Homo sapiens: one gene and its partners. The protein of the gene in region 2 purifies or fractionates together with the protein of the main gene of each other region. This does not show direct contact. Each region holds a gene or a part of one and is shown on either strand. Other genes may lie near its edges.

Region 1 (4,306 bases), on a different chromosome or scaffold from region 2:
TCTATTACATACCATGTACAACGCTAGATGGTGGGAATAGTGGTATAAGTTGTGCAGTTTCCTAGTCTATTTCTGTTCTTAGTGTTATTGTAAAGCAATGACAGAAGCGTATCATAGTGGCTCAGAAACCAAATCGAACCAGTAAAGTTACTAAGAATCTAGAGAATCCAGATTTTGATAAATACCTTTCAAAATGTGACATACGATAAGCAAACATCTTTCACTAAATACCTCTGCCCTCATTGCTGACCTTCTCTTTTGAATTTCTAAGTTTACATGATTTTATGTGTTAATTTCATCACCACCACCAGTTATAAGGAGAGATTATATTTTTTATTTATGAATTGTAGCAGTATGAAGACATTACTAGGGTAAATGCTTTAAAATAAGGATCAGTTGATGAATGTTGCTAGTAGTTTGTTCTTTCCATCAATAACAGCAATCTGGAGTGCCGTTAGCTAAAGGAACTTTGATTACCCACTGCTACAAAGATCTTGGATTCATGGATTTCATTTGCAGTTTGGTGACAAAATCTGTGAAGGTGAGCAGTCTGTTTCATGAGTATATAATTTTATGAAAAGATTGCTTGCTTTGAATGAAGAAAACATACTAAAACATTCCCTAATAACAATGATACTTTGGATAAATTTATTTTGTTAAATGGTCTGGTGTTTTGAAGCAGGAGCAGTTTGAGAGTCCGTATCTTTTTTTTTTTTTTTAAGAATCAGTCTTTTATCACCAAAGGTGTTTTTCTACAAAAATAAATGTCTATTCCTTGCCAGATTCTAGTTACAGTGACTATTCAAAGAGAGTGTCTAGAAATGTCGGGAATATTCAACCTGGGAAAGCTGTTTAAAAAATTTTAAGGCCAGGTGCGGTGGCTCACGCCTGTAATCCCAACACTTTGGGAGGCCAAGGCAGGCGGATCACTTGAAGTCAGGAGTTTGAGACCAGCCTGGCCAACATGGTGAAACACCGTCTCTACTAAAAATACGAAAATAAACTGGGCATGGTGGGGCATGCCTGTAATTCCAGCTGCTCGGGAGGCTGAGGCAGGAAAATCGCTTGAACCTGGGAGGCGGAGGTTGCAGTGACCCAAGATCATGCCACTGTACTGCAACCTGGGCGACAGAGACTCCATCTCAAAAAAAAAAAAAAAAAATTTTTTTTTAAATAAAAATGTTAGGAATATCATTAGGCAGTTAATTGTTGTCACATTGTGTATTCATTGTTGCATATGGTAATTCAGGAGAGCTGTAAATATTTATTTGGCCTTTCACTTTTTTTTTTTTTGGAGACATGGACTTGCTTTGTCGCCCAGGCTAGAGTACAGTGGTGCCATCATAGTTCATTGAAATCTCAGCCTTGAACTCCTGGCCTCAAGCAATCCTTCTACCTCCCTTTCACTGTTAAATGTGTTTTGTTTGTGTTCCTTGTTTCAGGTTTTTGCTGAGTACCCGGGCAGCTCAGCTCAGTTGAGGGTGCTCTTGGCTTTCTATGCTTCTACCATAGTGTCGGCGCTGGTAGCTGCAGAGGACGTATCAGACAATATCATCGCCAAACTATTTCCCTATATCCAAAAGGTTGGCACTGCTGATGTGTTAAGTAGATTATTTTGTACTTAAAGGAATTTTCTTGCTTTCGAAAGTTTTTTTAGATTTAAGTGTTTTTAAATTGACAGTTTATTTCAGATGATAGCTGAGATTTAGCCTTTAGGTTGAAAATATGACACTTTTTTATTAGAAACTCACTGGCCTGGGACCTTAATTAGGACTCTTAAGAATAAATATTGGCTGTCTGGTCCTGCGGCCATCTCCTAGATTGATTTCCATAGCAGTCTTTGTACCTCACTGGAAGGAGGACGGAGCAGACAGTCTCTTTGAGGCGTAAGCAACCTCTCAGTATTCTTTGTGCACTGGCTCCTGCCTCTCAGCGTTTCTCCTTCCCAAGTGCCTTCTTGCCTGCTGCCTTCCCAGGTGCCCTGTGGAGGTACTGCTTTCACTTCCCACCAGTGTCCCAACTTGTGACCTTTCATCAGACTTGTTTCTTCCATTAGTGATCTGATTGAGGTCTCCCTACTATAAGTAGGATTTTATGTATAAAAGAAGAGCTTACTGGCTCCTGTCAGGACATGTGGTAGATGTTTGAGTTGGGAAATTTTCTGAGATCCTTTGTCTCGTTCAACAGACTTGTCTCATCTCTGTATCCACTCTGAAAAAGGGGTCAGCTCCTTTATTGTTTATGTCTGAAGAGTGATTGACTATGCATTAGGTTGTATTAATCTCTATGACATTTCTAATTTGTCAGATTAACATTTAAAGTAGCAGAAAATAATATGGTTTATCATTTTTCCTTATATTTAAAAAATATTTAGGGATTGAAATCATCTTTACCAGATTACAGAGCTGCAACATACATGATAATATGTCAGATTTCTGTGAAAGTGACCATGGAAAATACCTTTGTGAATTCATTGGCATCACAGATCATCAAAACATTGACCAAGATTCCCTCTTTGATCAAGGATGGGTTAAGTTGCTTGATAGTGCTCCTGCAGAGACAGAAGCCAGAGAGCCTTGGGAAAAAGTATGTACAATTGAATTGAGAAATGGTGCTAGTCAGAGGTGAATAAAATTATTTTGAATAATTTTTTTTTGTAAGATAAGTGATTATATATTTTCTTATATTGTTACTCATTGTCTAACTTGTAAAGTCAACACGATATGTACTTTTGCTTCTTCAAAGGCCATTCCCTCACTTATGTAATGTTCCTGATCTTATTACAATACTTCATGGGATTTCTGAAACTTACGATGTCAGTCCTCTTCTGCATTACATGCTTCCCCATCTGGTCGTCTCCATCATTCATCATGTTACAGGTGTGTGGTTTTATATTTTTTGTCCAGAAATTTTCTAAGATTTGATCTTAAAATAGTAACCATATCCTGGTTAACAGCTTCAAAATATTTAAAATTTCTGTTTTCCAGTTGTTCTTGTGTAACTTGTCTATTTCTTAAGTGAGAAACATCTGGGGTGGGGAGCAGGTTGGTTGAAGAAAGATCATTGTTAATTGAGTAATTTCTTAGAATTTTACTTTTTTTAAGATCTGTGTTCTTAAATACTTAAATAGTCTCTACATGAAAAAGACTGGAATACTTTTAAAATTTATTACTGAGTAAACCTTTGCCTTCTCATTTAGGTATTTAATGAACTTTAGTGATTCATTTATAATGAATATCTCATCCAGTTGCCAAAAAAGTTTTTTCCCTAGAGTAATTAAAAATATAAGACCAAGAAAATTTTTATACATAAAAATCCAAATTATGAAACAAAGCAAAAAGCAAAAAGTAATAATTAGAGGGCCAGGTGGCTCAAACCTATAATTCTAGCACTTTGAGAAACTGAGATGGGCAGATCATGGCAAAACCCCGTCTCTACAAAAATATACAAAAATTAACCGGGCATGGTGACATGCAACTGTGGTCCCAGCTGCTCGGGAGACTGAGGTGGGAGGATCACCTGAGTCCAGGGAGTTCGAGGCTACAGGGAACTGTGTTTGTGCCACTGCAGTTCAGCCTGGGCGACAGAGTGAGACCCTATCTCAAAAATAATAATAATAATTAGAAAGTGATTATTTGCATTATGTCTTTTAATAAATACAGAAAGGCTAGGAAGAAACATTTGGTTCTGTTGCTACTTGGAGAATACTAAGAAAGACTTCTCTAAACTTATGTCAGTCTACTGAAAAATGAGGTTTTTGTAACCAAATCTTGGTTTGAACATGCATTTTAGAAAAGTGACTAGCAAAATGAAAATGTATTCTTCCTATTCTGAAGGTAATGAGTAATGTCCCAGTCTTTGAAAGCAAGGGCTAAGATCAGATTCATATGTTTATTATAAATCTGAAATAGATGACAGCTTTTGGTTCAGTAAGGGGGTGGGTACTGAGATAAAAGTTTAACCTCTTTTCAGAGATAGTTGATTGGCACCATCACAACTAATTTGTAATGTGACCTGGGGAAAGACTAATTTTGGACTTTTGTTTTGTTATTGTTATAAGCATGATAGTACTTGTTAAAAATAGAGAATTTTAGATAAAAGAAAAATGAAGGTGATCTATACAAAAGAGCTTTAAAAAATATAAATGACTAAATAAGTGGAATGCACTTGTGCAAATAGATAAAAAGCTGGATATCAGTGTGTGTGTTTTATTCTGAGAACGATTTTCTGCTATAAGTGAATTTAATAATGTTAGCTTGCAAAATAAATTTTTCCCAACACAATTTTAATTTTTACATATTAAGGA
Region 2 (4,306 bases):
AAATGCCAAACATATAAAAAGAATTATACCATACATGTAAAAAGAATGGTATAATTTATCCTCTGCAGTTAACACTTTTTACATTTGGGGTGTGCCAAGCAACTGAGGTTCTCAATTTCTTTGCAAATCAGGCAAAAACAAACTAAATTATTATAGAAACAATTCATTTATTTGGGTCAAATATCTGATGTAGTAGACATCCACTACTGTTTTGGCTGTTCAGCATCTTTGCTATTAAGGAGTTGTCTCTTCTTCCACTTCTGACAATCATGTAGACTATGTCTCCTATCATACTAGGGTTTTCTCATCTGCATGAGAGTCTCAACTAATACATACATCTTGGAATATCTTGTCTAGAACACAGTTGAGCATCTAGAAACCAGCAAACACCACCCCCAAAGCACCCCAGACATCCTAATGTCCTGCATTAATTCTCAGGCCTTGCCCACAGCAGCAAATTCAGGGAAGAGGGAACAGGGGATAATGACAACAGCAAGTAACAGAAGGAAAGAGAAATTCTGAAGGCTTCCATCATTAACAATCCAGTACTCTTTGGAAACAGTGTGGCAATTCCTTAAGATGTTAGTGGTAAGTTTACCGTAGGACCTGATAATTCCACCCCCAAGAATTTACCCAAGAGGAGTGAAAACGTATGTCTACACAAAGACTTTTTTTTTTTTTGAGACGGAGTTTTGCTCTGTCACCCAGGCTGGAGTGCAGTGGTACGATCTCGGCTCACTACAACCTCCGCCTCCAGGGTTCAAGCGATTCTCCTGCCTCAATCTCCCGAGTAGCTAGGATTACAGGGGCACGCCACCATGCCCAGCTAAATTTTATATTTTTAGTAGAGACAGGCCATGTTGACCAGGCTGGTCTCGAACTCCTGACCTCAGGTGATCCACCCGCCTCGGCCTCCCAAAGTGCTGGGATTATAGGCGTGAGCCACCGCGCCCAGCCTACACTAAGACTTACATGCAAATGTTCATAGCAGCATTATCCATAAAAGCACCAAACTGGAAACAAATCAAATGTACAACAGCTGGTAAATGGAGTTGACAAAATGTAGTATATTCATATAATGGAATATGGTTTGGCAATAAAATGAAATACTGATGTAAGTGAAAGAAGGCAGAAGCAGAAAGACTACACATTGTATGATTCCACTTGTATGTCCTGAAAATAGAAATTTATAGAGCTAGAAAGCAGATCAGTGGCTGCCTAGGGCTGGGGTGGGAGCAGGGATATTTGGGGTGATGAAATGTTCTAACAATGGATTGTGGTAATGACTGCACAACTCTATAAATTTACTGATAATTACTGAATTGTTCACCTACAAAGGGTGAATGTTATGATATACAAATCATATCTCAATAAACTATTTAAAAACATAGTCAACTTATTTGGGACCACATGGCCTTACAAGCTTCTGTGAGCATGCCTTTTATTTTTGGCAACTACTACTACTAATAATAAAGATCCTGGGTTGTCAAGAATTGATTTAAGGCTATACCTTTAACTGGATATCCACTGTACAAATCCATCAATTAATTTTACTGGAAAAACAAAATTCAAAGAGTAAGCCTTATCACTGTTGGTAGATCATAGGTCATACTATTATTTTTCTACCAATGGACAGCATTATTTCAAATCTGCAAAAAAGGAAAATATAAAATCCTTAAAAGGATCAGTATGTATTTATATTTCTGCCATATGGGTGATATGTAAAGTTCTATGGCTTTCCCTAAGGCCCCGAAAGACAGAAATAAAATTATTTAAACATTACTTGTGTCCAATTTTCAGGACCTTAGACATAGGTACTATGAAGTGAGATTTAGAGACTAAGTAACTTGCCCAAGGTCCTTAAGAGCCAGAATTTGAACCTAGGAAGTCTGACTGCTTTTAATGCCTAAAATCTTTAAACGTTACTCTTTGTCTATGGGTTCTAGTCTAAAAGAATGTTAAAAGAATATACATTCTCAAAGGAGAAGACAGAAAATAATTAGGTAAATCAAAGCTGAGGCCAGAACAGACTTGGTATCAAAAAAACTAGGCCAGAAAAGCAGTCCTCGTTCTGAGCTCTCAATCATGTAGTATAACCTAGGGTTCTTTAGAAAGACCCTTGCTGGCCGGGCACAGTGACTCATACTTGTAATCCCAGCACTTTGGGAGGTCAAGGTGGGCGGTTCACGAGGTCAGGAGATCAAAACCATCCTGGCCAACATGGTGAAACCCCGTCTCTACTAAAAATACAAAAATTAGCTGGGCGTGGTGGCGCTTGCCTGTAATCCCAGTTACTCGGGAGGCTGAGGAAGGAGGATCACTTGAACCAGGGAGTCGGAGGCTACAGTGAGCCGAGATCGCGCCACTGCACTCCAGCCTGGCGACAGAGCAAGACTCCATCTCAAAAATAAATAAAAAAATAAAATAAAAAAGAAAGACCTTTGCCTACTACCCAGAACTGGGAGGTGAGGAGAAAGACGTTAAGAGGCCTGTCATATTGTAGGGAATATCTACATAGAAAACATAACTGCTGCCCCAGAGAAACTTGCACAGGTGTATAGAGGAGATGTATCAACAAACAACCTAAAATCCCAAATACATCTTATACAACATACCAAATATATTCCACCTGAGTTATAAAAATTGTATATTATAATATCTCACTGTACAGAATATCATAATGTATTTAGCTTCCTCCTCCTGTTTTTTCTAACCTTTCTACTACACAAATGTGCTAGGATATACTTTCTTGTACATACATCCATGTATACTTGCCCATTACTTTAAGATAAATTTCTGTGGGTAGAACTGCTTGGTTTAAATATTTGCATTAAAATTTTGTTTTATTTGCTATATTTCCCTTCAAATACACATAATGGGAATATCAGAAAGAGAGGAAAAGAGAAAAGAGCAGAAAAAAACTTCAGAGAAACAATGGCTGAAGCTTCTCCAAATTTATTGAAAAACAACCACCTACACATTCAGAAAAAGCTCAATAAACTTCAAGTAAGATAACACAAAGATATCCACAGACAGACACATCATAGTAAAAATGGCAAAAGTTAAAGATAAGAAAATCTTAAAAGCAGCAAGAGAAAAAAACACTTGTTATTTACAAGGAACCCCAAAAAGATTCTGACTTCTTAACAGAAACAATGGAAGACAGAAGCAGTGTGATAACACATTCAAAGTGCTCAAAGAAAAAGAAAATTTCAGCAAAGAATCCTATACTATCAAAATTATCTTTCGAGAATGAAGGAGAAACAAAGACATTCCCATAAAAACAACAACAACAACAACAACAACAACAAAACAAAGAAAAAAAACAAACAGAGAATTTGTTGGTAGCGGACTTGCCTTACAAGAAATACCATAAGAATTTCTGGCTGAAAGCCAGTGACCACAGACGGTAATCTGAGTTCACATACAAAACCCAAAAAAGCCTAGTAAAAGCAGTGTCAATGAAAAAAATCAGTAAAGAAATTCAAATGCTATAAATTAGAAAATTCTCACTTAATGCAAAAGAAAGCAATAAAGGAGGAATAGAGAAACAAAAGACATATATAACACGACAAAATGGCAGACATAAATCCAACTATATCAATAAATAACGTTAAATGTGATTGGAGTAAACAACCCAATCAAAAGAAATGGACAGCCAGACAGGATCAAAACCAACCAACCAACCAACCAACCAACCAACCAACCAACCAAGATCCAACTATATGCTGTCCACAGGAGACACACTTTAGTTTCACAGATATAAACAGCTTGAAAATAAAGGGATAAACACGTATCATGCAAACAGCAAGCCACAAGAAAGCTAGAGTAGCTATATTAACATCAAACAAAATGGCCTTTCAAAGAAAAAAATGTTACCAAAGAGGGATATTTTATAGTGATAAACAGATTGATCCATCAGGAAGATACAATTACAAACATATGTGCATATAAAAACAGCACAATCTCAATAAATGTAAAAGGATAGAAATAATACATAATACAAAGTGTATTTTCCAGCTGCAATGTAATGAAATTAGAAAAAATTTGTGAAAGTCACAATTATGTGGAAATTAAACAATTCATTCCTAAATAACTAATGGCTCAAAGAAGTCAAAAAGAAATCAGAATTTGAGATTAATGATAGTGAAGACACAATATATCAAAATTTATGAGATGCAGCTAAAGCAATGCTCAGAGGGAAATTTATAGCTGTATCCCTATATTAAGAAAAAGATCTCAAATCAGTAACTTAATCTATAATCATGACACTGGAAACAAAAAGGGCCAACTAAACCTAAAGCAT
Region 3 (4,306 bases), on a different chromosome or scaffold from region 2:
AATTCTATTCATAAACATAGTTTTCTGTGAATTAAGACTGCCATGATTCAACATTTCCCAACTTAGCAAATACGTGTCCATGGAGCAAACAACTTGACAGCCTCTAATCTACTGTACTGCGCAAACCAGCTGTCCTCAAGAAACATGAAAAGTTCACCATCAGAAAAATCTTCCTTAATTTTCTATCAAAACCACCTTCCTGGGCTAGGAAATGTTGACCCCTTATCTTAATCTCAACTGATACAATCATTAAGGATAATATATTTTTAAAAATTATTTTCTGCAACAGCTCATTATTACTAATCTTACCCGGCCAATCTAGTCATTTCACGCCCAGCCAAAACTATTCGACCCAGAGCTTGAGACATTCGCAAAAGCATTCTTCCACTTTGGTAGTAATCCTTAAATAGAAATAAATATTAGTTTTTACTTATAGTTCTATGACTAAAAATTTGGCTTTATTTTTACTGTTACATTTTCATTGTATTATCATCAGTTTACCTCTAGAAGTTCCGAATGTGTACTCTTGAGATGTCGAGGATGAGACAAATCTAAGAAAGGGCGACTGACAACTAGGTAACCAACAACAGTGGCAAGGTCTGAAACCAAACAGGTAAGATTTAAAACAGTAACAGTATTTCACCTTTTCCACAAATCTCATCTCTTTCAAAATATACTTACATTTGGCAATAATACTATCAATGAAGCCCATTGAAAACCGAAACAAAATGAAATTATGTAGGTGTTCCACCTGGCAGAAAACAAAAACAAAAAACCATCTTTTTCTCTGTATAAAAAACTGAATCTACTATAAGGATAAAACAAACTGTATAGTTCATTTATTCAACAAATATTTACTGAGTGCCCGTGATTTCTGTTTATATTCTGTTTATATTGTACATCACACCACCGAGGACAATGCTCTTCACAGAGCGGGTGCCAAACAAACACTTCATGAAACCATTTTTATGCAAACAGCATGGAAATTACATAAACAATTTTAACAATGCTGTTTCTCTTGCATGCAATAGCACAATGCTATTGTAGTCACCATGCTTTTGGATACACATATCCCAAAAGAGGACAACAACGAAAGCAAAAAGAACAGAGATTAACTAGTTTGAGTGAAACACTAGCTGTCCGGATTGGCACTGAATGCTTTGCTTTCAGTGGAGACACATGGTCTGTGCTTTATCTAAGAATTGTATTACACCCAATCTGAACTGAGTGCTAATGTAAATCAGTGCCACACAGCCTCAGTTTTAGCTTTAACATGAGCACGCATTGTCTTAAAACTACAAGTCTAAAACTGCTTTTTTATTCTGGAGTTGTAGTGTTCTCAAACTGTCCATCTACCAGATTATTCAAGGTCCTGCATGATCTGGCACTGAGCTCTATTTTTAAGGTCATATGCTTCTACTTTGCTCCTCCTCACCAAGCTCCAGAAATAACGGTTTCTCAAACATGTACCTTCTTAAGGATTTCCTCTTGCTCTTCTCACTGCCAGGAATACATTCTTCTAAGGTATCTATATTTTGTGACTCCTTCACTTTCATGTGGATTTCTGACTAAATGTCACCTCCTCAAGAAAGATCTTGGCCATTCCAGCTAAAGTAGCTGGGCAATAGCCCCCTTCATATCTATCCCTTTATCCTGCTTCATTTTTGGCCACCGAATTCATTACTACCTGAAATTATACAGAACATCTAGTTGTTTATTTATTGTCTGCTCCACTAAAATGTGGCTTCCTGAGTACAGGGTAGCTTGTTAACAACTTGGTATCTTCTGCAACTAGACAATCTCTGGAACATTTATTCAATGACTACCATGTGTCAGACACTGTGCTCAAGCTGGAGATACAATGAATAGAACAGAGAAGGTCCCTGAATTTATGGAGTTTACATTCTAATGAAAGAGCATAACTAGTAAACAAGATAATTAGAGACTGTAATACAGTCATCCCTCGGTATCCAAAGGGGATGGGATTGGTTCCAGGACCTTCTGGATACCAAAATCCATGGATGCTCAAGTCCCTGATGAAAAATGGCATAGTATTTGCATATACCTGAGTACGACATCCCATACACTTTATTTACTTTTTGAGACAGAGTCTCACTCTGTCGCCAAGGCTGGAGTGCAGTGGTGCCATCTTGGCTCAATGCAACCTCCGCCTCCTGGGTTCCAGTGATTCTCCTGCCTCAGCCTCCCGAGTAGCTGGGATTATAGGCCCCCGCCACAACAACCGGCTAATTTTTGTATTTTTAGTAGAGATGGGGTTTTGCCATGTTGGTCAGGCTGGTCTCGAACTCCTGACCTCAACTGATCTGCCCGCCTCAGCCTCCCAAAGTGCTGGGATTACAGGGGTGAGCCACCGCAACTGGCTCATCCCAAACACTTTAAGTCATCTCTAAATTACTTATAAAACTTAATACAATGTAAATAGCTATTACACTAATGTCTGTATTGTTCAGAGAATAATGACAAGAAAAAAATATGTGTACATAAGTACAGACACAATTTCTTTTTCTGAATATTTTCAATCTGTGTGGTTGAATCCATGGATTTGGAACCCACAGATGCAGAGGGTTGACTGCAAATATATATATACTTTTAAGGAAAGATGATGATTAAAACAAGAAGTAACTGTTGGAGGCCATTTCAAATAGGCTGATCAGAGAAGACAAAGCTTCAATAAGGTGTTAACATTTGGGCTGAAAATCTAAAGGATGAGAATAAGCAAGCCGTGTGGAGAGCAAACTGGTGAACTGCAGGCCCCTGAAAAATTACCTTAAATGCATTCTACCAGTGAGCACTCTAAAAGTTCTGCCATGTTAAATACCGACGAGGCAAAAATCCAATTTCTGAAATAATTTAAAATGACAATTTCTTTAACCTCTTTAACTCATCTAAAATATACATTTAATTTCACAAACTTCAGACTTCCACTAAAATGTAAGCTCCTTAAAGGCAAGATTTTATCCATCATGTCCACCACCATCATCCTTAGCACCTGGAGTGAGCACAGGCAACTAGACGGCATTCAATATCTTTTGAATAAATAATGGAATAAAAGTACTTGAATTCAAATTTTCCAAGTGGCAATTAAATAAAAACTGAAGTAAAGCTTTCACAAGAAACAATGCTTATATTCTTTAAAACAAAAAGCCAGTAAACTCTGACCCATAGTCCAAATCTAGCCTGCTACTTGTTTTTTTAAGTAAAGTTTTATTAGAACATAGCCACACCCACTCATTCATGTATTATATATAGCTACTCTTGAGTAGCGGAGCTGAATAGTTGCAAGACACTGTGTGGTATGAAAAGCCTAAAATATATACATACTATCTTGCCCTTTATGGAAAAAGTTTGCTGACTCTTGCTTTACATAATAATCTTTATTGTATTTTCATGAATGCTTCAGGAACAAATTCTTTCTGTGGGAATCACTAAATAAGGCTCCTAAGCAACCTCTGTAAAAATACACTTAATTTTTTTTTTATGTTTTTGATTATACTTTAAGTTCTAGGGTACATGTGCACAACGTGCAGGTTTGTTACATATGCATGCATTTGCCATGTTGGTGTGCTGCACTCATTAAGTCGTCATTTACATTAGGTATATCTCCTAATGCTATCCCTCCCCCAGGCCCCCACCCCACAACAGGCCCCGGTGTGTGGTGTTCCCCACCCTGGGTCCAGGTGTTCTCATTGTTCAATTCCCACCTATGAGTGAGAACATGCAGTGTTTGGTTTTCCGTCCTTGCAACAGTTTGCTCAGAATGATGGTTGCCAGCTGCATCCATGTCCCCACAAAGGACATGAACTCATAATTTTTATGGCTGCATAGTATTCCATGGTGTATATGTGCCACATTTTCTTTGTCCAGTCTATCACTGATGGACATTCGGGTTGGTTCCAAGTCTTTGCTATTGTGAATAGTGCCACAATAAACGTATGTGTGCATGTGTCTTTATAGCAGCATGATTATAATCCTTTGGGTATATACCCAGTAATGGGATGGTTGGGTCAAATGGTGTTTCTAGTTCTAGATCCCTGAGGAATTGCCACACTGTCTTCCACAATGGTTGAACTAGTTTACAGTCCCACCAACAGTGTAAAAGTGTTCCTATTTCTCCACATCCTCTCCAGCACGTTGTTTCCTGACTTTTCAATGATCGCCATTCTAACTGGTGTGAGATAGTGTCTCACTGTGGTTTTGATTTGCATTTCTCTGATGGCCAGCGATGATGAGCATTTTTTCACGTGTCTGTTGGCTGCATAAATGTCTTCTTTTCAGAAGTGTCTGT

What was found.
Region 1: the proteins of NET1 (region 2) and HEATR1 purify together in Homo sapiens (affinity purification with mass spectrometry; one large-scale study listed by BioGRID and IntAct). This does not show direct contact.
Region 3: the proteins of NET1 (region 2) and ABCD3 purify together in Homo sapiens (affinity purification with mass spectrometry, with the first as the bait; one large-scale study listed by BioGRID). This does not show direct contact.

The regions. Positions count from the first base shown.
Region 1 is NC_000001.11:236,594,113-236,598,418, reverse strand, and holds part of HEATR1 (HEAT repeat-containing protein 1), read left to right. Parts: intron 1-439; coding exon 440-541; intron 542-1,442; coding exon 1,443-1,583; intron 1,584-2,374; coding exon 2,375-2,586; intron 2,587-2,745; coding exon 2,746-2,879; intron 2,880-4,304; coding exon 4,305-4,306. UniProt on the Homo sapiens protein: Ribosome biogenesis factor; required for recruitment of Myc to nucleoli. Involved in nucleolar processing of pre-18S ribosomal RNA. Required for optimal pre-ribosomal RNA transcription by RNA polymerase I.
Region 2 is NC_000010.11:5,418,712-5,423,017, reverse strand, and holds part of NET1 (neuroepithelial cell-transforming gene 1 protein), read right to left. Parts: intron 1-4,306. UniProt on the Homo sapiens protein: Acts as a guanine nucleotide exchange factor (GEF) for RhoA GTPase. May be involved in activation of the SAPK/JNK pathway Stimulates genotoxic stress-induced RHOB activity in breast cancer cells leading to their cell death.
Region 3 is NC_000001.11:94,483,987-94,488,292, reverse strand, and holds part of ABCD3 (ATP-binding cassette sub-family D member 3), read right to left. Parts: intron 752-4,306; coding exon 682-751; intron 600-681; coding exon 502-599; intron 402-501; coding exon 310-401; intron 1-309. UniProt on the Homo sapiens protein: Broad substrate specificity ATP-dependent transporter of the ATP-binding cassette (ABC) family that catalyzes the transport of long-chain fatty acids (LCFA)-CoA, dicarboxylic acids-CoA, long-branched-chain fatty acids-CoA and bile acids from the cytosol to the peroxisome lumen for beta-oxydation.